Linked DNA regions of Homo sapiens. The protein of the gene in region 7 purifies or fractionates together with the protein of the main gene of each other region. This does not show direct contact. Each region holds a gene or a part of one and is shown on either strand. Other genes may lie near its edges. The genes, in order: CLASRP, ISY1, SUPT6H, DIRAS2, NUDCD3, HSF2 and WSB2.

What was found.
Region 1: the proteins of WSB2 (region 7) and CLASRP purify together in Homo sapiens (affinity purification with mass spectrometry; 2 studies listed by BioGRID and IntAct, with this or other methods). This does not show direct contact.
Region 2: the proteins of WSB2 (region 7) and ISY1 purify together in Homo sapiens (affinity purification with mass spectrometry, with the first as the bait; one large-scale study listed by BioGRID). This does not show direct contact.
Region 3: the proteins of WSB2 (region 7) and SUPT6H purify together in Homo sapiens (affinity purification with mass spectrometry; one large-scale study listed by BioGRID and IntAct). This does not show direct contact.
Region 4: the proteins of WSB2 (region 7) and DIRAS2 purify together in Homo sapiens (affinity purification with western blotting, with the first as the bait; one study listed by BioGRID). This does not show direct contact.
Region 5: the proteins of WSB2 (region 7) and NUDCD3 purify together in Homo sapiens (affinity purification with a luminescence readout; one large-scale study listed by IntAct). This does not show direct contact.
Region 6: the proteins of WSB2 (region 7) and HSF2 purify together in Homo sapiens (affinity purification with a luminescence readout; one large-scale study listed by IntAct). This does not show direct contact.

The regions. Positions count from the first base shown.
Region 1 is NC_000019.10:45,045,545-45,049,044, reverse strand, and holds part of CLASRP (CLK4-associating serine/arginine rich protein), read right to left. Parts: intron 1-3,500. UniProt on the Homo sapiens protein: Probably functions as an alternative splicing regulator. May regulate the mRNA splicing of genes such as CLK1. May act by regulating members of the CLK kinase family.
Region 2 is NC_000003.12:129,126,915-129,130,063, forward strand, and holds the end of ISY1 (pre-mRNA-splicing factor ISY1 homolog), read right to left. Parts: 3' UTR 501-3,149; downstream 1-500. UniProt on the Homo sapiens protein: Component of the spliceosome C complex required for the selective processing of microRNAs during embryonic stem cell differentiation. Required for the biogenesis of all miRNAs from the pri-miR-17-92 primary transcript except miR-92a.
Region 3 is NC_000017.11:28,668,705-28,672,204, forward strand, and holds part of SUPT6H (transcription elongation factor SPT6), read left to right. Parts: exon of another isoform or gene 1-2,527; intron 2,528-3,500.
Region 4 is NC_000009.12:90,615,325-90,618,824, reverse strand, and holds part of DIRAS2 (GTP-binding protein Di-Ras2), read left to right. Parts: intron 1-3,500.
Region 5 is NC_000007.14:44,480,659-44,484,158, forward strand, and holds part of NUDCD3 (nudC domain-containing protein 3), read right to left. Parts: intron 1-3,500.
Region 6 is NC_000006.12:122,430,652-122,433,619, reverse strand, and holds the end of HSF2 (heat shock factor protein 2), read right to left. Parts: intron 2,191-2,968; coding exon 2,106-2,190; intron 1,696-2,105; coding exon 1,400-1,695; 3' UTR 501-1,399; downstream 1-500. UniProt on the Homo sapiens protein: DNA-binding protein that specifically binds heat shock promoter elements (HSE) and activates transcription. In higher eukaryotes, HSF is unable to bind to the HSE unless the cells are heat shocked.
Region 7 is NC_000012.12:118,051,180-118,054,679, forward strand, and holds part of WSB2 (WD repeat and SOCS box-containing protein 2), read right to left. Parts: intron 1,300-3,500; coding exon 1,131-1,299; intron 1-1,130. UniProt on the Homo sapiens protein: May be a substrate-recognition component of a SCF-like ECS (Elongin-Cullin-SOCS-box protein) E3 ubiquitin ligase complex which mediates the ubiquitination and subsequent proteasomal degradation of target proteins.

The DNA.
Region 1 (3,500 bases), on a different chromosome or scaffold from region 7:
CACTGTCTCACTCGAATGTCCCAACCATGGAAGAAACATACTATTCTTTTTCTTTTTTTGAAACAGAGTCTCGCTCTGTCACCCAGGCTGGAGTGCAATGGCGCGATCTCGGCTCACTGCAACCTCTGCCTCCCAAGTTCAAGGGATTCTCCTGCCTCAGCTTCCCGAGTAGCTGGGATTACAGGTGCCCGCCACCACGCTTGGCTAATTTTGGTATTTTTAGTAGAGACAGGGCTTCACCATGTTGGCCAGGCTGGTCGCTAACTCCTGACCTCGTGATCCGCCTGCCTCGGCCTCCCAAAGTGCTGGGATTACAGGCATGAGCCACCACGCCCAGCTGGTACTATTCTTATGCCCATGTTACAGATGAGTAAACTGAGGCTCAAAGCCATGGGGTCCACCTGCCTGACATTAGGAATAAGCAGAACTAGGATTCAAACCCAGATGGGCCTGGCTACAAAATCTGCTTCTTTTTATTTATTTGCTTTTTAAGAGTAATTTTTTGTTTGTCTGTTTTGAGACAAGAGTTTCACTCTTGTTGCCCAGGCTGGAGTGCAATGGCATGATCTCGGCTCACTGCAACCTCCGCCTCCCAGGTTCAAGCGATTCTCCTGCCTCAGCCTCCCGAGTACAGGCATGCACCAAAATGCCTGGCTAATTTTTTGTATTTTTAGTAGAGACGGGATTTCACCATGTTGGCCAGGCTGGTCTCGAACTCCTGACCTCGTGATCCACCCGCCTCGGCCTCCCAAAGTGCTGGGATTACAGGCATGAGCCACCACGCCCAGCAGGTACTATTCTTATGCCCATGTTACAGATGAGTAAACTGAGGCTCAAAGCCATGGGGTCCACCTGCCTGACATTAGGAATAAGCAGAACTAGGATTTGAACCCAGATGGGCCTGACTACAAAATCTGCTTCTTTTTATTTATTTGCTTTTTAAGAGTAATTTTTTGTTTGTTTGTTTTGAGACAAGAGTTTCACTCTTGTTGCCCAGGCTGGAGTGCAATGGCATGATCTCGGCTCACTGCAACCTCCGCCTCCCAGGTTCAAGCGATTCTCCTGCCTCAGCCTCCCGAGTACAGGCATGCACCAACCTGCCTGGCTAATTTTTTGTATTTTTAGTAGAGATGGGATTTCACCACGTTGGCCAGGCTGGTCTTCAACTCCTGACCTCAGGTGATCTGCCTGCCTCAGCCACCCAAAATGCTGGGATTACAGGTGTGAGCCACCACATCTGGCCAAGAATAATTTTTTTATTGTGGTAGAAAACATTTACCATCTTAACATTTTTAAGTGTACAGTACAGTAGTAGTAACTACATCCACCCTGTGGTGCAACAGAGCTTTAGAACTTTTTAAATCTTACAAAACTGAAACAAAACTGAACTTCCCCTTTCCTCCTCCCCCCATCCCTGTCAACCTGCACTGTATTTTCTTTTTCTGAGGGTTTGACTTTTCTTTTAGGTTTTTTTTTCTTTACCAAAAATACAGAAGGTTTCACGAATTTTTGTGTCATCCTTGCACAGTGGCCATGCTAATCCCCGTATCGTTCCAATTTTAGTATATGTGCTGCCGAAGTGAGCTCCCTTCCTCCCTTCCTCTCTCTCTCTGTTTTTTTTTTTTTTTTTTTTGAGATGGAGTCTTGCTCTGTCACCCAGGCTGGAGTACAGTGGTGTGATCACAGTTCACTGCAGCCTGGAACTCCTGGGCTCAAGCAAGGTTTAACTATTTTAGATACTTATCAGCGGATCATACAATACTGTCTTTTTGCGACTGGCTTATTTCACTTAGCATAACATCTTCAGGGCTCATCGATATTGTAGCATAGGACAGGATTTCTTTCTTTTTTAAGATTGAATAATATTGCGTTATGTGTAGAGACCACATTTTCTTTCTCGATGTATCCCTCAATGGACATTTAGCTTGCGTCCACCTCTTGGCTATTGCTAATAATGCTGTAATGAACATAAGTGTATAAGTACCTCTTCAAGATCCAAAATCCACTTTTTTTTTTGGAGACAGAGTTTTGCTCTTGTTGTCCAGGCTGGGCTGCAATGGCGTGATCTAGGCTAACCACAATCTCTGCCTCCCGGGTTCAAGCGATTCTCCTGCCTCAGCCTCCCAGGTAGCTGGAACTGCAGGCATGTGCCACAACGCCCAGCTAATTTTGTATTTTTAGTAGAGATGACGTTTCTCCATGTTGGTCAGGCTGGTCTCAAACTCCTGACCTCAGGTGATCTGCTCACCTCAGCCTCCCAAAGTGTTGGGATTACAGGCGTGAGCTACCGCGCCCGGCCCAAAACCAACTCTTAACCACTGGATTATCCTGTCTCTAGGATCAGATTGTGTCAGAGGAGTTCATGAAGTTACTCATTCATTCATTCATTCATTCAACTGTTAAGCAGACCTTGTGCTAGGGTATGGCAGTAACTGAGATAGCCCTGGCCCTGCCCTCATGGGCTCACAGTCCAGTGTGGGACACAGACTTGTCCCCATACAAGGACAACCTAGAGTGGACAGCGCTGAGATGGGGGCCCACAGGGGGAACACCTGACCCAGACTTGGGGGTCAGTCTGGAGCTTCCTGGAGGAGGCGACGCCTGAGCTGCGACCTGTTTACTTCTTATTTCCGTATCAACAGAGGATTCTGTTTCTTTATCCAAACCACTGATTAAAAAGGAAAGTTGACAAGGACAGAAGCAATGACAGAACCGGAGTCTGCTTGGGACTGAAGACAGGGAGAGAAAGCAGGCACCAACGACAAATCAGGAAGACAGAAACCAACTGCATCTGGACATACTCATTCAGCCTGCCACAATCTACCGCAGCTTCACTGACACTCGCTCCACAGCCTCTGCTCTCGGCCCAAGGCTGAGATGAGAGTCCCCTCCTCAAAGCAGCCATCAGCCACGGCCCAGCCATACTCCACAGCTTGGCAGCCCAGATCGGAATGCAGGTCACGTTCACATACAGGGACAAAGGCCGCTTGTACAGGCCTGCACCACAAAGCACCCATAGACATTGGTTCTTTGAGCTCTTCCCCATTATCCAGTGAGAGGGGTTGGTCGTCACCACTGTCCTGAGGGGGAATACAATGCAGCAAGCTTCCCTGCTAACAGGGAGGGGGCCTGGAGTCTCAGCTCCAGCCTTCCTTCCTCTGCACCATCCCTCCACCTGGATCCAAACTCCAGTTCTATCAGCAACAGTAATGTCAATAACAAGAGCTAATATTTACTGAGCGATAGCGACGCTGGCCAGGCTGCTCTCAGTGGTCCATGTGTCCAACACTCCAACAACATCGAAGGACATGCTCTTGTCTCCACTGTTAGTGGCAAACCATTAATTGGCAACCAACATCTATTCCCTTTGCTACAACAGTAACAGAACTCCAAATATATCTGGTCAGGGCGACCCAAAATAAAGTCTACACCTCTTAGCCTTCCTCACGGCTGTTCATAAGACTACTTCCTGGTCAGCAGGGGAGGAGTGGAAATGTTAC
Region 2 (3,149 bases), on a different chromosome or scaffold from region 7:
TTCTGGTGGAGCAGGTGGGCAGCAAGTGAGATGCCAGAAGGAGCTGGGTGCCGCTGCCCGTCCCCCTGGATCCCTCTGCTTGCTAGTCAGCTGGGTGCTGGGCCAGGCCTGATGTCCATCCAGGCGGGTTCCTGCTTTCAGTGCTGCACAGTGAGCAGGGTGAGGAGCCCCAGCTAGGGTCCAGATCCTGCCAGTGTTTCAGGGAATGGGGTGTGCATGCGCAGCACTGCAGAGCAAGTGCAGGGCAAGAGGAGAAAGGTTTTCATTTCTTCCTTGTTTATAAACTGCCCAAGGGCAGATGGGGTCAGCCAGTTGGGGATGCAGCGGGAGGAGGTCCAGGAGGCCTGGGTGGGGATGCTGTGACCAGTCTTAAAGCAAAACAGGAGGGAGGTGGTGTGTTTTAGACGCTGGAGGACAGGCAGTGTGAGGGAAGAAGGAAGTTGATGGAAACATGACTATGAAAAAGTAGCTTTTCGGGAAACCACAGGCAGAGCCAAAGCTAAAATAAACCATTCAGTAGATTTTATTAACCAAACAAAGCCTCCTGAGATTGGTTCTGTCACCTCGGAGCCACAAGCTGGGAAAAGATAACCACACCCACCCAGCCAGCTTCCCCCACCCCCAGCTGTTTCCAGGCCTGGGACTGGAGCCCTGCTGAGACCTTGTCCCACATCTAGGACCCTCTAGGGCCTTTGGGCACAGACAAGTAGCAAGGGCCTCTGCCAGGAACACCTAGAGGATGTCCAGCTGGGTGCTTCTCCACTCTCAGTCTGTTTGCTCAAATGTGGAATTCTAATCCCTGGCCAGTTTGCATCCCGGGGATCCCTGAAGAGATCCCAGGAGGGGAGTGCTTTGTGCACTGAAGGCGTGGAACAGGGCACTGGAGGAGGAAGACCCAGAGCCCTGGCTCTCAAGACAGGCCTGGCTCCAAGCACCTGCCATCCTTCCCAGGGAGAAGGAAGGCCTGATGTCTGGATTCCCCATTCTCTTCTGAATGCCAGGAAGCACCAGAGTGCGCGTGTGCCCCTTGGAAGACAAACCCACAACCAGGCCTGTCTGAGGCCGGCCATCCGCACGCTCCCAAGAGGCTCAGACCTGGGTCAGTCTGTCCCTAGGGCCCTCTGAGGCCTCTGCCCAAACCACAGGACTGCCCAGACCCCAGAGCAAACTGAGACAGCACAGGTCCACTCCTTGACTTCAAAGTATGGAAGGTGAGGCTGGGCCCAGAGGGTCTTGCTCAAAGCCCCCACGATATTCACTCCTGAGTCCCCACCTGCAGGCCCAAGCTGGGTGCTGGGTCCCAGAGGCGAGTCTGCCTTGCTGCCTCCAAGGGCTCCCAAAGCTTCAACCTGGACACCTCTCCTCCCTGCACACATTTGCCTCCGGGCTTGACTGAGGGCTGGGATTGGCCAGCCCAGCCCTCAGGGAAGCCAGGAGGCAGGGGGGCCCCTTCCCCATCCTCACCTACACCCTGGCTACTCCCATCCCCACCAAGCCCACCCACCTCCTGCCAGGGCCTCTGCCCCAGCCTCCTCCTGACCTGGTCCTGCCTGGGCCTCTCCTTGTGGCCGCACGGAGCGTCCTCAAGCAAGTCCCTTAGCCACTAGCTCCCGACTCCCTCACTCAGACCTTTTCCACAGTCCTTGTGGCCCTCGGGCTCCTTAGAGAGGGCCCAGCACTGGCCACTCTCCCGACTTGGCCACACACAGCCACACACGGCTCTGCCACCCCCAGTCTGAGCTGCTCCCCGCAGACCAACCATCCCAGGCCTCCCGCTGTGTGATGGGCTTCTCCAAGCCAAGAGTTCCTCCTATTCCCAAACAGCCTGAGCTGGAGCCCCAGGCCCCAGGAACAGCCATCTGGCCCTGACCCTGAGTTCCCAGACACTCCCATGACCCTGCAGAGGGCAGGAAGCCAGGCACCATCTTGCCCAGGGGCTACAGCCGCTGACCATGGTTCCCCACTGGAGAGCTAAGCCCCAGTTCAGAGGAAGCTCTGGACTCAGCTCGTGTCCACTGTGTGCTTTCAGCAGGCCACGGTGCAGCCCACTGCAAGGAGCCCTGTCTACAGCTGTGGCCACGGACGCCATGGTGGGTCGGCTCACTCCCACCTAGACTCCTGGGATCTGGTCCTGTCTTTGCCACACTTGGGGCTGGGGCTTCAGGGACTCCCCTGCAGGAAGGCAGTGCCCCTTAGTGACTGGTCACATCCTAATGCCACTGTCACCTCAGAGCCGTTGGCCCAGGGAACAAGCTGAAGACATGGAGGTTTCCCTTTCTTATAAAAATCTTTAATAAAAATAGGTTTCTGCAGAACAGGTTATAAAACAGGAATAGCAAACTCAAATTCCTGCCACCCAGGCAGGAGCGAGTGGAGCAGGTGGAGGGGGGCTAACGGAGAGCCCAGAGCAGCAACCAACACAGAGGGACCTGGTCATTGACTTGTGGGTTGCGTGCATCTTTTTTTTTTTTTTTTTTTGGGACAGAGTCTCACTCTGTCGCCAGGCTGGAGTGCAATGGCACGATCTTGGCTCACTTCAACCTCCACCTCTCGGGTTCAAGTGATTCTCCTGCCTCAGCCTCCCAAGCAGCTGGGACTACAGGTGCATGCCAGTACGCCCAGCTAATTTTTTTGTATTTTTAGTAGACATGGGGTTTCACCATGTTGGCCAGGATGGTCTCCATCTCTTGACCTCGTGACCCGCCCGCCTCGGCCTCCCAAAGTGCTGGGGTTACAGGCGTGAGCCACTGCGCCTGGCCACATCATCTCATTTTTCAAGAGATGTGTCTTTTAGAAAATTTGCATTTTTTAAAATTATACTTTGGTCTGCAAAAAATTGCATTTTTAAATGTTTGCCACTAATTGATTCTTCTCCCCTCAAAATGGCAGTGCAAGTCAAAATAAGACACAGGCAGCCAGTTCGCAACCTGTTGTATACACTCCACAATAAAAATAAATGGATCCACACAGTAGCAAAATATGTGTACAAAACCTACCAGGAAGACCAGGGACAGACCCCTACCCTCCGGTCAACATGAGACAAGGAGAGGGAAGGAAGGCTGAGAATGGGGCAGGAGCCCTTGCAGCACCAGCCTGTGTCTGCAGCCCTGGGTCCTGAGGTACCACTGGGGGATGGAAGAACTCCAAGG
Region 3 (3,500 bases), on a different chromosome or scaffold from region 7:
GTTGAGGCCTTAAAAGATTGAACTTGTGGGTCTGATAGCCTAATTAGAACAAGCTATGTGTGGGGGCTGCCGTACTCAAATCTGTTTTTAATGGCTCAGTTCAGGGCTGAGGGGGAGCAATGTCAAAATTAAAATTAGAGCTCTAGATTTAATTGGCAGAAGTTTAAGACTTTCACTTTTGGCAGTGCTCAAGCTAAATGACCTTAAGGATAGAGATCTTGGGGTCATGGGGGAGCATCACCCTAACCCCTAGGCTTACTATACCGCATCTCTTTAGGGTCTTTACAGTCACTCCTCAACTTTTTGGACTCAGGACCCCTTTATACTCTTAAAACTTATTTAGGACTTCAAAGACATTTTGTTTATGTGAGTTATATCCTTTGATATTTACCAGATTCGAAATTAAAACTCAGTGAGACATTTAAAAATATTTATTGATTTATTTTAAAGTAGTAAACAATAATACTTTTTATGAATAACAGTAGTTTTTTGGGTTTTTTTGTTTGTTTGTTTGTTTTGAGACGGAGTCTCACTGTCGGTGCAGTAGCACCATCTTGGCTCACTGCAACCTCTGCCTTCCAGGTTCAAGCAATTCTCCTGCTTCAGCCTCCTGAATAGCTGGGACTACAGGCGCCTGCCACCATACCCAGCTAATTTTTCATTTTTAGTGGAGGCAGAGTTTCACCATGTTGGCCAGGCTGGTCTCAAACTGCTGACCTCAGGTGATCGGCCTGCCTCGGCCTGGGGTTACAGGCATGAGCCACAGCACTCGGCCGAATAATAATAGTTTTTAAAACAAAACATTTTAGTAAGAATGGACTGGGTGTGGTGGCTCACTCCTGTAATCCCAGAACTTTGGAAGGTCGAGGCAGGTGGATCACTTGAGCTCAGGAGTTCGAAACCAGCCTGGCTAACATGGTGAAACTTTGTCTTAAAAAATAAATGAATAGCCGGGCGTGGTGGCTCACGCCTGTAGTCCCAGCACTTTGGGAGGCCAAGGCAGGTGGATCACTTGAGGTCAGGAGTTCGAGACCAGCCTGGCCAATATGGCCAAACCCCATCTCTACTAAAAAAAACAAAAATTAGCTAGACGTGGTGGCGAGCGCCTGTAGTCCCACCTACTCGGGAGGCTGAGGCAAGAGAATCGCTTGAACCCAGGAGGCGGAGGTTGCAGCGAGCCAGGATCGTGCCATTGCACTTCATCCTGGGTGAGAGAGTAAGACTCTGTCTCAAAATAAGTAAATTAAGTAAGAATGACATTCTTTGTTTTTTAGTACAATGTTTTAATGTCTGCTCTAACAGAATACAGCTGTGTTCTCATATGTTTTTGCATTCAGTCTGTTGTGATAACCACATGTCCTATAACCTCTGGAAAACTCCACTCTATGCTCCTGAGAGAACAGAGGGACTGGCCCCTGGACCACGCCCTGAAAACTATTGATAGATGTGGTACTGTCAACCATGAAGAGTCAGACAGACCTCAGCACTTACAGATGATAGTTTTGTCACCTTGAACAAATGACTACATCTCTCTGAGTCTGTTTCCTCCTCTGTTGAGAGAGAAGTGTGCTGTAACTCATAGGACAGTGTAGGGATTAATAGAATACTTGTTCTCCTTGATAGGGACATAAAATAGTAGGGTATTTGTTAGTGTCTGGCACTTGGTAGGTGTGTAATAAGCATTATTCCTCAGGGTACTTTTTAAAAAATTGCTTAAAATACCCAAGAGAGACCCATATTATTTTGATTGGGTTTTGTGTGTGTGTTGTGAGTTTATTGTCCAGTTCTCTTCCTGTGCCTGTTCTGTGTGTCTATTGTAATATATAAAACGATTTTATGGTCCTTATTTTCATATTTCTATCTCTAGGAGACATTCAACTCCTTGAAAATGAACAATCCGGCCAGGCGCGGTGGCTCACGCCTGTAAATCCCAGCACTTTGGGAGGCCGAGGCGGGCAGATCACCTGAGGTCAGGAGTTCAAGACCAGCCTGACCAACATGGAGAAACCCCCTCTCTACTAAAAATGCAAAATTAGCCAGCATGGTGGTGCATGCCTGTAATCCCAGCTACTCGGGAGGCTGAGGCAGGAGAATCGCTTGAACCCAGGAGGTGGAGGTTGCGGTGAGCCGAGATCACGCCATTGCACTCCAGCCTGGGCAACAAGAGCGAAACTCCATCTCAAAAAAAAAAAAGAAAGAAAATGAACAATTCTCTTCAAATCCCCAGCTCTTAGCAGAGTATATGTACATTGTAGGCATTCAGTTAGGTTTGTGGAAAGAATGGCATCTGAAACCTCAACCGAAAATTGAACATTCCCCCTCCCTCCTATACCTTCAGTTTTGTTTTCTTGAGTTTAGTTAATCTCAAGTTCATTGGTTATAGTATTGATTGAGCTCCGTAAGGGCAATTTTGAGGAGAATTAGAGCCACAGAACTTAAGGCACCTTCAGGTAGCCATTAGCCACCCTTCTCTTCTCTCCCCTCCCACTGCCATCTTTAACTGGGAAGATGGCAGCAATATGAAAACGTAAGTAGTTTATTTAACAGACACTTAACAGTTGCTAATTTGTTAGCAGCTAATTTGTTGCTAATGTGTTGCAGCACACCTGAAGGGATATAGCTTTTCTGGTGCAGAATCACAGAGTGCCTTGTAATGCCTCTTGTATTGCCATTTATGTTTTCATGATTTTTATTAGTCTCTCTATTGGATATGTTCTTTATCTTCCAGAAGCTTGTAGTCTAAGTGAGAGAAAGGTACATGGGATATATCCCATAGACCATTTTACTGGATGGGGTGAGGAGTGATGCTGAGTGTGTCAGCAGCCAGCTTTAGGGTTCCACAATGGAATCTTGTTGTGATGATGTGTGCTGTTTTTTAAGTCCTACTCAAGGCCCATCAAGCTCCATGTTACGGTTCTTGAAGATCCCTACTGTCGTTTCCAGGCTTTGGATGAGTCTGAAAGCAGGGAAGTAGAAGATAAAGTTGGGGTTGGTTGGTACAGAATTACAGAATGCTAAGGAAAATTAGGCTCAGGATTCAAATTCAAACTCAGGTTAACCCATCTTGAAACAATAGGTTCTTTCCCCTATGTCATGTAATATTCTCAACTATCCTGTAAGGTAGGTAGCGCTATTACCATTTTCCAGGTTAAGAAAGTGATATTCAGGCATGTCCAATAATTTGCTTAAGTTTATGTTTAGCCCGTAGGGTATGAAACCAGGATTTGATTTCTACTCTTGAGCCCAGCAGTCTTTCCATTTAACCATGTTGCATTTATTTTGTAGGACATGGAAGCCTTTCAAGATTTTTTGCCTGCAAGGGGAGTAAATGATAAAACTAGGCCCTTTTTGGACCCAAATGCTCCCAACCAGTACTCACACAAATTGGCTCAAGTTCATGAAGTATTTGTGTGTTTAATCTATTGAAAAGAGATTTTGCTTTTGACTTTGCTAATAAGTATGAATAGTGTATGTAAACATATGAAAGCACCTTTTATAAA
Region 4 (3,500 bases), on a different chromosome or scaffold from region 7:
TTATTGACTTATTATTGGCTATTTGTATATCTTCTTATTGACTATTAAATATAGTCAATAAATTCATATATCTTCTTTTGAGAAATGTCTTTTTAAGTCTTTTGCCCATTTCTAATTGAGTTGTTTTGTTGTTGTTGAATTGTAGAAGTTCTTTGTATATACCAGAACTAGTCCCTTATCAGATATATGATTTATAACAATACTCACTTATCCTGTGGGTTACTTCTTTCTTGATTGTGTCCTTTAGTTTTGATGAAGTCACATTTACCTAGTTTTAATCTTGTTGCTCATACTTTTGGTGTCACATCTAAGAAAACACTGTTTACTCCAAGGTTATCAAGGTTTATACCTATGTTTTCTTCTAAGAGTTTTATAGTTTTAGCTCTTATATTTAGGTATTTGATCTATTTTGAGTCAGTTTTGTGTATGGTGTGAGGGAGAGGTGCTCCCCTTATTCTTTTACCAGTTTCAGCGTCATTTGTTGAAAAGACTATTCCTTCTGCCTTTTGAATTGAATTTTATTGACACCCTTGTCAAAAAACAATTGACTGTAAATATGAGGGTTTATTTCTGGACTCTGAATTCTATTCTGTTCATGTATCTGTGTATCCTGTGTTAGTACCACAATTTCTTGATGTATTATATCCTTGTCGTGAGTTTGAAATCAGGAAGTATGGGTCTGCCAGCTTTTTCACTTTTAATTTTTCAACATTGTTTTGACTATTCTGGGTCTCTTGAATTTTTACATAAATTTTGGGATCGGTTTGTCAGTTTCTGCAGAGTCGCTAGTGGGATGCTTTTAAGAATTGCATTGAATCTGTAGGTGATTCCTGGAAATACTGCTATCTTAGCAGTAAAAGTCCTCTGATACATGACATGGGGTGCTTTTCCATTTATTCGTGTATTCAATTTCTTTCAACCATGTTTGTAATTTCCAGATATGTTTTGCATCTTTTGTTAAATTTATTCCTAAGTATCTTACTCTTTTTGATGCTATTATAAATTGAGTTATTTTCTTAAATTTCATTTTCAGATTGTTCATTGCAAGTGTATAGAAATACAGTTGGTTCTTTATATGAATGTTGTATTCTGAAATCTTATTGAATGAGTTTAATAGCTAGTTGCCCTCTTGTGAATTTTTCTCCTTGTCCATCATACTGCTCCTTTATGAACCCCTTATCTGCATGGTCCTTCTTGAATGTAGCCAAAAAACTATGTGCTGAGAGCTGTTCAAGTGCTTGATTGCATTGTGTTACTCCCCACATTAGTCTCATAAACAACTTGGCATTATTATATCCATTTCCTAGCTAAAGCAACTCAAATGCAGAAAGTTTAAGTAACTTGCCAAGTTCTCTCAATAGCATATAACAGATTGGGCATGTGGTATTCTCCTTTCATTCTACATGCTCTCTCCCTGGAGAATTTTTGTTTATTATAGTGCTGTTTGTGTATGAATGGTATCCAGATATTTATCACTAGATGAGTCCTCTCTGCTGAACTTTCACACTAAATCCCAATCACCTACCAGATATCTCCCCCATTTGTCCCATAAACCTGACCCAATCACAGCTCCTTTCTCCTTGTTGTTTACTGTCATTTCTCTAAAGCTGCTTCTCTCTTCTGCCTTTTATCTTGATTGATGGTGAGTGCCACCACTCACTTGCTACCCCAAATTCACTCCTGGATGCCAGTTTACACAAGCTGTCTACCATGGCATGAGCATTAGCTCTATTTCCTCCATTTATTCCTTCCTATGAAGTTCTTTCTTCTGACTAACACGCCTTTCATCACTTCACCATCTGGCAAGTTCCAGCCCTCTGTGAAATGCTTCCTGAGGGCTCCAGGCAGAGCTAGATTCCCCACTAGGTTCTTATCCTGCCTTTGTTGATAACTAGATCACAGCATCTGCGAAGTGGGGCGTAATGTATACTTTCCTATGCTTGTCCCCCCTCTAATGCTGTGAGTGCTGTTGGGTAAGCACTGAGTTTGCACAGTATCTAGAAGACATTTTATAAATGCTTGTGAAATAAATGAATGGTTCTGACATGGAAGAAAATAGTTTACAATTTTTTTTTTTTTTTTTTTTTTGTGATGGAGTCTTGCTCTGTCACCCAGGCTGGAGTGCGGTGGCATGATCTCAGCTCACTGCCACCTCCACCTCCCAGGTTCAAGTGATTCTCTACAGTCTGGGTTTTTGTTAGTGAGTTGAAGATCACTATGGAGTTATTGGCCCAGGCCTATCTCATAAATGCACATTGAACTTTATACCCCTTCAACTTTCTGACTCCTGTTCATCTTTCAGATTCATGCTTCCATGCCACCTCCTTAGTGAAATTCTTCCTGATATCTCAAATTTCATGAAATTCCTTCAGACCTCTCTTTTGCAGCACTTGCTATGATATAATTTATTAAATATTTATGAAGTTATCTTTTGGATTGATGTCTGCTTTACTTGATTCTGAGTTTCATGAGAATAGAGATCCTTCCTTAAGTCTGTCCTCTGCACAGTTGTTTTCTGGCCGCTTGTCCACAGCCTGGTTTAGTGGAAGCTCAGTGGATATTTCTCTGGGTAAATGAATAATTGTAGCCATGAATACTTTATTTTATGTTTAGCATTTACTTCCTATGTGTTCGTTGCCAGTTTAATAATGGAGACACCTTAACATAGCTGACCACATATTCAGCAAACTCATAAAGAGTGTATGTGCTGTGAACCAAGAGATCTTTGAGATACATTGGGATGCAGAACTTGTTAAGATATGTTCTCTTCCAGCTAGATGCTTATGCTCTAGTCTGGAGCTACATAACCATAATACAAGGCAAAACGAGTGAGGAAACTCCCTTCTAAGCAAAAAGAGAGCTTCATTCTGAGGATGTAGAAAGAAGCTTAAGATTAGATTCCATTGTCCATTTTCTATGGTTTAAATGTGTTCCCTAAAAGTGCATATGTTAGAAATGTAATCCTCAAATGTGTATGTTCATGGTATTTGGAAGTGGGGCTTTTAGGAATAGATGAGGTCATGAGGAGGCTGGGCAATGCCTGTCATGGCATCAGTGGCTTTATAAGACAAGGAGAGAGACCCTAGCTGACATGCTTGCTCTGTCTTATCATGCCATGCCCTCCAGTATGTTATGAGGCAACAAAAGGCTCTCACCAGATCCAGCTTCTTCATATTGGACTTACCATCCTCCAGAACTGTAAGAAGTAGATTGCTTTTAAAATTATTTCATCTGAGGTATTCTGTTATAGTGACAGAAAACAAACTAAGACACGATTGAGTTTTTTTAAAAAAATTGTGGAAAAATTTATCACAATGCTTCACCCTTGAATTAATCATAATTATCTCATAAGCATTTAATAAACTTCACCAAACTCCTAAGCAGACTCTTCTGCCATCTTTTGGTGTTAATGAACTTCCTAACAGTCTTTTATATTTTCTGTTAGCATTGATGTTTCCTTAGCTTCTTGGAGGGTTTGGGATTCCAAAGTGCATGCAAGA
Region 5 (3,500 bases), on a different chromosome or scaffold from region 7:
TGGCCAGGCATGGTGCCTCACACCTATAATCCCAGCACTTTACGAGGCTGAGGCGAGTGGATCACTTGAGCTCACCAGTTCGACACCAGCCTGGGCAACATGGTAAGACCCTATCTCTACAAAAAATACAAAAATCAGCTGGGCAAGGTGGTGCACGCCTGTAGTCCCAGCTACTTGGGAGGCTGAGGTGGGAGGCTCGCTTGAGCTCAGAAGGCAGAGGCTGCAGTGAGCCAAGATCATGTCACTGCATTCCAGTATGGGCAACAGAGCAAGACCCAGTATCAAAAAAAAAAAAAAAAAAAAAAAAAATCCAAAAATTTGAAAAAAAAAAAAAATGGATTGTTTTGTCTGTGCTGAACATGTACAAACTTCTTGTCATTATTCCCCAAATAATACAGTGTAACAACTATTTACATAGCATTTACATTGTATTAGGGATTGTAAGTAATCTAGACATAATTTAAAGTCTATGGGAGAATGTGCATAGGTTATACACAAATATTATACTGTTTTATATAAGAGACCTAGACATCCATGAATTTTGGTATCCACGAGGGACCAGGAACCAATCCCCTGCAGATACCAAGGGATAAGTGTATTTATTAAGAGAGTTACTGCAAGAAATTGGCTTACATGATTGTGGGGGCTGGCTAGGCCAGTCTGAAATCCACATAGCAGGCCAATGTGGAACTCTCCAGAAACTGAGTGCAGCTGCTGTCCATCGGAGAAATTTCTTCTACTTCAGGGGAGCTCTGCTGCGCTCTTCAGGCTTTCAGCTGATAGATCAGGCCCACTCAGATCACCTAGGACAATCACCCTTACTTAAAGTCAACCAATTATTAACTTGCATCACATCCACAAAATACCTTGACAGCCATGCCAAGATGAGTGTTTGACTGAATAACCAGGACTGTAACTTAGCCAAACTGACAAATGAAACTGACCATCACAATAACCATGTCAGTAGTCTTTAAAAGCATTTTATAAATGTATTTCTCCATTCCCTTACTACAGAAATTCAGCATTCTTCCAAAATTTTGCTAATATAAGTAATGTTGGAATAAATAGAACTGAAGTGAACAATGCTATAGACTGAATGTTTGTGTCCCAAAATTCCTACGGTAAATCTTAATCCCAAGATATTGGGATGAGTACTTTGGGAGGTGATCAGGGCTCTGCCTTCATGACTGGAATTAGTGCCCTCATAAAAGATTTGAGAGAGTTCTCTCACCTCTTCCACCATTTGAGGACACAGCAAGGTAACTACGAATCAGAATGTGGGCCCTCACCAGACACTGAATCTGCCAGTACCTTGACCTTAGACTTCCAGTATCCAGAACTGTGAGCAATAAATTTATGTAGTCTATAAGCCACCCAGGCTATATTATTTTGTTATAGCAGCCTAAGTGGACTATGACAAACAACTTTGTATATTAAATCTTCATTCTTACATCTGATTATTTTACAGAAAGACTACTAGTAAGGAGGCTGCGCATAGAAAGAACTCCAAAAAACCTCATAGGATCCCCTTGAGTCTTTGGCTGAATACAAAACTGCACATGTGTAAAGTGCAACTCCATGAGACAAGTAGGAAACCTGGGTAACTGACATGGACAATCCCTAGAGCTGGGAGACGTTCAAGCCTCAACCAGTCAGAATGGAAAGACCTCACTAACAGCTGGAGCACTCAGAAGCCCCAAAAAGGCATGTCTTAGAAGACTAAGCTAGCTTTAAAATAAAAGTACCCTAGATACAGCTTAACAAAGCTGAAAAACAAGGCCAGACACATTGGTGCACACCTATAATCCCAGCACTTTGGTAAGCAAAGGTGGGAAGATCATTTGGGACCAGGAGTTCGAGATTAGCCTGGGTAACATATTAAGACTCCATCTCTACAATCAATTGATCAATCAATACAAATAAAAAACAAGCTTCAAAAAGATCATTCTGATCAGCAAATAAATTAATTGCCTGCAAGAACAAAACTCAACACTCAACAGAAGAAATCAAAACCCAGAGACTCGACAGCATAACATCCATTAATGTCTAGCATCCAATAAAAAATTATCAGACATTTGAAAGAAAAAGAAAATGTAACCCAAAATCAGGAGAAAACTCAATCCCTAGAAACAAACCAAGAAATCACAGAGATAATGGAATTAGCAGATAAAGACTTTAAACTATTGTAAGTATATTGAAGGATTTAAAGGAAAACCAAGGTAGAAATTGAAGCCATAAAAAACAATCAAGGGGAACCTGCAGGGCTAAAAAATAAACTATCTGAAATTAAGAAGTTACTAGATGAGTTTAACTACAGATTAGACACCAAAGGAGAAAAGACAGTAAAGTTGAAGACAGGTCAACAGAAAATATTCCAAAGGAAGGACAAAGAGAAAACAGACCTCCTAAGTGTGTGTGTGTGTGTGTGTATGTGTGTGTGTGCTCAAAAGTCTCCCAATAGTATAAACACAAGGACTATCATGCATGAGTAAATCTTAATCAAATTGCTCAAACTAATGATAATAACTTCAAGGAACTGATATAACAAGAGAATGGGGATATTTCACACACAGGGGAACAAAGAATGTCTACTCACTTCTCATCAGAGACAGTGCAAGCTAGAAGACAATGGAATGATAGTCTTTAAAATGTTTGAAGAAAAACAAAAACAAAAAAAAAGTGTCAACCTGCAATTCTATATCCAGCAAAAATATCCTCAGAAATGGAAGATGAAATAAAGGCATTTTCAGACAAAAAAGCTGAAAGAATTCACTATCAGCAGATCTGCACTATAAAAAATATTTTAAAAAGATCTGCAAGGAAATATCAGATGTCTGCCTTCCACCCTATACTCCCCACTTCCAATCTCTAAATCCTTATTTCACCCCTTCTCATCCAGAGCTCCATATTCAAGAGCTGCTCCCCTTCTCCATCAGCTTGGTTCTGCCATCAAACAATTGTTTTCTTCGAACTCCATTAGTTAGCCTGGACTTTAAGACTCTGCAATCTTGCCCCTCCTGTCTTTACAAAACTTATTTTCTCTTACTCCATATTTTATAAGCCATTCCAAGTTGTTCACTTTGCTTCATTAACTAGAAAAAAAAACAAAAACTCCCCCACAGCCTAGGCAATACAGCAAGAAAATATTTTTAAAATTTAGCCAGGTATAGTGGCAGACATCTCTACAAAAAATTACAAAATTAACCAGATGTGGTGGTGCATGCCTATGGTCCCAGCTACTCAGGAGGCTGAGGCGAGAGGATTGCTGGAGCCCAAGAGTTCAATTCATATATTGCGCTATGATCACACCACTGCACTCCAGCCTGGCCAACAGAGTAAGATCCGGTCTCTATTAAAAAGTGTGCACGCACACACACAATCTCCCCCAAAACACGTCAGAAAGAGAGTAAAGGAGTGAGAAAAACAGAAGAGAACTCAAGGTGGCAGGGATTTGGGGGCACACAGGTGACCCATCCTATCAAGGAGGGAAGAGAGTGAAT
Region 6 (2,968 bases), on a different chromosome or scaffold from region 7:
TTAATTCACCAAGATCCCACCATCAGAGCCAAGTATTTTAGGATCTAACTAAAACTCTCCTAAGGGAATTTTCCTATTCTTCTGTGCTAGCCCTTACTTTGAATCTTTACATCATAATAAAAGAAATTCTAAGACACTGACAGAATATGGCCAATAGGAAAACCTGCCTTGAAACTCATTAAATAGCCCTATACAATATTAATTGTACTGCTTTCAGCCCTTTGCCCAAAGGTGAAATTCTTCACATGATAAAGTGCCCTGGCCTTGCATTAAGTCTCCATAATTCTCTTGGGCAACTGTTTCAAAGGAAAGAGGTGATTTGACTATTTCTCTTATCTTCTCTCCAGACATCCAGTGATAATATTCTTACACTATTTGGGACAATGAGAGGCATAATTCTCTCACTTTTTTATTAGAAACATAGAAAGCAACCCAGTATAATTTTTAAACAAAGAACTTTAAAATACATTAAATTTAGAGATTATATTTCTCCCTTGTTGCAATATACAATATATTTTCGAGATGAGGCACAAATATCTTGGTATGATTCATATTGAGAATAATGAACCACAGACAGTTTAAAGCTACTGCTTCCTATGAGAAGAAAAAATTGTTTCATGTGAGTGTCACCTCTAAAGAAGACACATAACAGACACTAGTACTCAACATTCATTGTATTTATTTTACTAAACAGTATGGTTCAAAAAAACACAAACCGGAAAACCTTTATTTAAAACTAGTCCAACTAACTGGATGGGGCTCACTCCATCCCATCCCACCCCCGATCTTTCTATATATATGGAGCTGGAACCCTATCAGACAGCGAGCATTCACGTACACTTTGTCTTTCCTGTTGAACATGAATAAACGTCTTTGAACATAAATGAACTTCTCTGAACCAAAAGAAACAAATGAAGTTTTACAAGATACAGGCACTTTATGTTCCCAGTTTTAAAAATAAGCCAAGTGAAAAATATTTAATAAAAATAACTGGAGCAGAGAAAGCTTTAGGAGTTATACCATTAGTTCAAATGACTTACACTCAATGCAAATAGACAGCATCAAACAGGAAAACAAACAAAAATTTAACTGAGGTTAATGGTCGTATTTGTAAAAAAAAGATATCCAATTTACCAAAATTGGAGAAAAATGGCCATTTGAATCCAACTTAAAGATACGCCAATAATGTGCATTACATCTGCGTAACTATGCAGCTGAGTAACACCTGAAAGCTCTGCAAGAGTGTGTGGTTAGTGAGAAAAGCAAAAGGTGCTTTTATTCCACAGTATCTGATTAAACAAAACAAAGCAATTTACAAAAAAAGTACCAAATGATACTTTAAAATAAATAGTTCATCATTTTGATGAATATATACATGTAAAGTCCACTTCCTGGGGATTTAGCTATCTAAAAGTGGCATATCACTATCCAGAGGTGCAGGAGCAAGTTCACATAAATAAAACAGTGTAGCTTCACTAGCTTCAGCTTCAGTCAATGGCTCCAGGCGAACAAGCTTACTTTGGGTTGGTTCTGGGTCTAGGCTGCTATCCAGAAGCTCATCAACTTCTATGGGTTTATCTACAGAGGACAAAACTTCTGATGATGCTGTTGTACTCGCCTGTTCAACAGAAGAAGCAGGGTTCCCATCGAGGAATGCAAGAAGTGGAAAGGCGGTATACTGGATAAGCTGCTTATCTATAAAGATCAGAAAAACACTCTTTTATCACCAGCTTATACTGAGTTCAAGCTGAGGGGAAAAAAATGAAAACAGAGATGTACACATAGGCAATTACTACTCTCATATAGCCAAACAAGAAATGACATGATGCACTATGTCAATAAATTTTAAAATGTGCAAGTCAATAGCTCTTATTCAACAATTAAGAAATGAGGGGTCTTTAGTTTCCTAAAGTTAAATAGGATAAAAAAAAAAAACTTAAAGAATTGTTACCTCACCAATTCAACTTTCTCTATATACTAGAACCTCGACACACTATTCACAGAACTAAAGCCAGCATATTCAATTAAGACTACCCTCGGCTTGCACTTGTTTCTGCATAGGATTAAAAAAACCTACAGAGACTGAATACTATATTTATACCTACCTGGTTTGGATTTAGATTTTCTTCCCTCTTCCGAAACTGGCTGAACTACATTGTTCTTGGTAGTTTCTAATCCTTTATTCTCAGACTAAAAGAAAAAAATATATATATAAGTACTTGTTTCATATTTTATGTTTCTGAAAAAAATGAAAAATTGATACAATATGTAAATACTGGTATATTATCTGAAATATATGAGATGGGGAAACATCAGGGAAAATGGGCTACAGAGAGAGATCTGAGTAGAGATAACAAGACTGGTTAAGGAACTATTGCTGTCACTGAGGGGATAAAACAAAGAACCTGAATTAAGATGTTCTATATTAAGTATGAAATGAAGGGGGATTTCAGCAGCAGAACAGATAGAATTTGTCACGAGTAAAAGATCAGAATGAATCAAAGATGACTGGTTTCAAAATGTTAATTGAGAGATAATTAACTAAGCAATTAAATTCATTTTAAGTAGTTTTGATTTAAAAAATGTATTATACATTTCACTCATAAACAGAATATTTAGCATAAGTGAACATATTTAGAGTAGCTCAGGATGACATAATGACATCCTTAAAACTCTTTATCACTATTTAGAAGCCTCAAAGTTGAGGTGGTGTTTCTTCTTGTCCTTTCTGTAGCTCTGTCAGTTCTTTTCTGTCATTTAAATTGCTTCTTTGAACCACTTTCTTCTCTCCTCACATCTGACTGTGGTAGGGAAATTATATCTTTACCATTGTTAATTTCTTCAGTGCTCCTTTCATGTTCAAACTCTGAGGTGCAGAGGTTCTTAATTTTTCCTGTAAGTCCCAGACATCTGCAAGTCCCAGATCTACATGCTGGCTAAATATATATGGTGTAACCAACTGTAAACT
Region 7 (3,500 bases):
AAAAAGACAGACAATAACAACGGCTGGATGTAGAGAATCTGGAACCTGAATCCACTGCTGGTGGGAAAGTAAAATGGTGCAGCCACTCTGGAAAACAGTCTGACACCTCCTCAAATAGTTAAACATAGAAAACACAGGTTTTCTATAAATGTTCATAGCAGCACTATTTGTAATAACCAAAACATGAAAACAACCCAATGTCCATCAACTGATAAATGTACGAACAAAATTTGGCATCTCCATATGATGCAATAAAAGGAAATGAAATACTAGTATATGCTAGAATACGGATGAACTGTGAAAACATTATGTAAAATGAAAGGAGCTAGTCAAAAAAGGCTACGTGTTGTATGACTCCATTAATAGGAAATGTCTAGAATAGGCCAATCTAGAGAGACAAAGTAGATTAGTGGTTGCCTGGAGAGTGCAGGGGGGTTGGGGGATCTAAATTAAGGGGTACAGGGTTTCTTTCTGAGGAAATAAAGATATTCTAAAATTGATTATGTGCCAGGCACAGTGGCTCATGGGAGAAATGTGTAATCCCAGCACTTCGGGAGGCCGAGGTGGGTGAATCACTTGAGGTCAGGAGTTTGAGACCAGCCTGGCCAACATGGCGAAACCTCGTCTCTACTAATAATACAAAACTTAGCCAGGCGTGGTGGTGTGTGCCTGTAATCCCAGCTACTCAGGAGGCTGAGGCAGGAGAATCGCTTGAACCCAGGAGGCAGAGGTTGTAGTGAGCCAAGATTGCGCCATTGCACTCCAGCCTAGGAGACAGAGGGAGACTGTCTCAAAAAATAAATAAATAAAGTAAGACTGATGATGGTGATGGATGCACAACTCTGTGGATAGACTAAAAGCCACTGTATTGTATACTTAAATGGACAAACTGTGTGGTATATAAATTACATCTCAATAAAGCTATGGGAAAAAAAGCCAACTTGGGGCTAACATAATCTTGACAGAATTGACTTTCACATATACAGAACTTGGGGCTCTGGAAACCCCCATGATCAATTCCTGAACCATGAGCCACCTTCCCTCTCTCTGGTTCTTGGGCACAGAGATGGCAAAAGAACAAGGAGTGTTTGGAAATGCGCCGGATGGGGCCCCAGTACGAGAATACTTACAACTGCTCCTCCAACGGCCAGGGGATCAGTTTGACGATGCAGTGTCCTTGAGACCAAGCAAACCAGGAGCCATCTGGGGAGAAGGCGACGCTCCAGGTTTCACAGCTGGACTTCCAATCAAACTGGTGGGGGCGCCCGGGCTTGAGTTCGGCCAGCAGCAGCGGTTCCTCTGGGGCAGGAGACAACATGCTTCAAACACACACCCCCTTGCTCCCTGACCACCCAGACACAGGAAAGCCACTGTCTCCCTGTGGCAAAGAGCCACACTATCCATTCCCAGAGGGAGTTGTCACTTAAATGACCCAGGGCAATAACAGCAGCCACAGGCCACATTCCACCACGGTTACTCAATCCTGGCACTCCTCACTGCTGGTTAACCATGACTCACAGTAACCTTTGTGCCCATGAACCCAGTGAATGGAGGCCTCATTTTCCTATGAATACTTGAAGGGGAGGAAAGTGGAGAGACAGCCAGACCAGGAATATGCTAGACGGTGCTGATTATGGGGCCAAAATAGCAAGGCCTTCCAATGCATTTCAGGTTTCTTCAGAAGAACCTGCTGCTGTCAAAGAAGGAATATGTGAAACTCAAAGGCTCCCTCTCACTCGCCTGCATCCTCCCCATCATCAAGGCTAAAAACGTTCAGCCCTTGCCCTGCTTCCTCACACTCAGAAGTATGGATTCCATCTCCCCATCTCTCCCGCTTCCACGTCCTCTGTCTGGGGTTAAACCTTCATCTCATCTCACCCAGATCTTTTGCTACAGTCTCCTGATCAGTCTTCCTACCCCTAGAGATGCTGCTAAAGCTGAAATACCCACACATCACATCATTTCTTTCAAATACATTAGAAAGCTCCCGCCTGCCTACATCATAAAGGCAACTGAGACCAGGACTTTCACCACATGCCATCTGCCCCAGCCCATCGGTCCAACCTCCTTCCCTTGTCCCCTCCCTGCAGGCCACACTCTGGCCACAAAATCTCCTTGACATGCAAGGGGCTTATTTACGTTCACACCTGGACCCACTTTTGCTTATGAGAATCCCTAGCTTCTCAAAGTAACAAGAAAGAAAGAAAAAAGTAATAATCCCACCTAGATTCACAACTAAGAAGCGTACCCTGATCTCACACTATCAAAACGGAAATAAGTCGCACCTTGTTTATTTCATTCTCTCTTATGTAACCAATTTCTCTCTGCCCCCCGCCCTCGTCATCAGTGTCTAAGCACCTTGTTCCAACACCCAGATCATTTTGTCTTTGTTTCTCCCAGGACCTAGCACACCATCTTGTGAAAGAGTAGGCACCAGATTGGAGCTTCTTCATTGACTGACCCACAGTTCCTAGTTCAGTTCTCTACTCTGATGGAAGATTCTCATGGCTGATGAAGCTTATAAGTTAAAGGCCTTCAGAATGAATTTTTTGACCATTATGACTGTGATACTTACTAATATAAAAACTGGCTTCCATCCTGAATAAGGTCACTTCCTGATGTGTCCATTCCACACAAGGAATGTGGAATGTGGAAGACTTTGACCCTGGCTGTTACCAGATAGATATTCATTTTTAAAACCCGTATTTCATATATTTTAAGACACATCTTTATATATCTTACATTTTGACCTCGCTGAAATCAGGATGTATCTTATAATCAATGACTTTTCATAGTTAAATAGGTAGTATTTTTTTCTCAGTTATACATGATGATAATACAATCCATGGTATCTTGGATTCAATAAAACAGATGGTAGAGATGCATATGTGTATATTTATAAAATATTTTTGCCAGGTGCAGTGGCTCACATCTGTAATCCCAGCACTTTGGGAGGCCAAGGCAGGCAGATCACTTGAGGACAGGAGTTTAAGACCAGCCTGGCAAACATGGTGAAACCATGTCTCTACTAAAAATCCAAAAAAAAAAAAAAAAAAAAAAAATTAGCCAGACATGGTGGCGGGCACCTGCAGTCCCAGCTACTCGGGAAGCTGAAGCAGGAGAAGCACTTGAACCCAGGAGGCGGAGGTTACAGTGAGCCGAGATCGTGCCACTGCACTCCAGCCTGGGTGACAGAGCGAGACTCTGTCTCAAAAAAAAATTGGCTCATGCCTGTAATCCCAGCACTTTGTGAGGCCAAGGCGGGCAGATCACCTGAGGTCGGGAGTTCGAGACCAGCCTGACCAACATGGAGAAACCCCATCTCTACTAAAAATACAAAATAAGCCGGGCTTGGTGGCGCATGCCTGTAATCCCAGCTACTCAGAGGGCTGAGGCAGGAGAATCGCTTGAACCCGGGAGGCGGAAGGCAGAGGTTGCGGTGAGCTGAGATGGTGTCATTGCACTCCAGCCTGGGCAACAAGAGTGAAACTCTGTCTCAA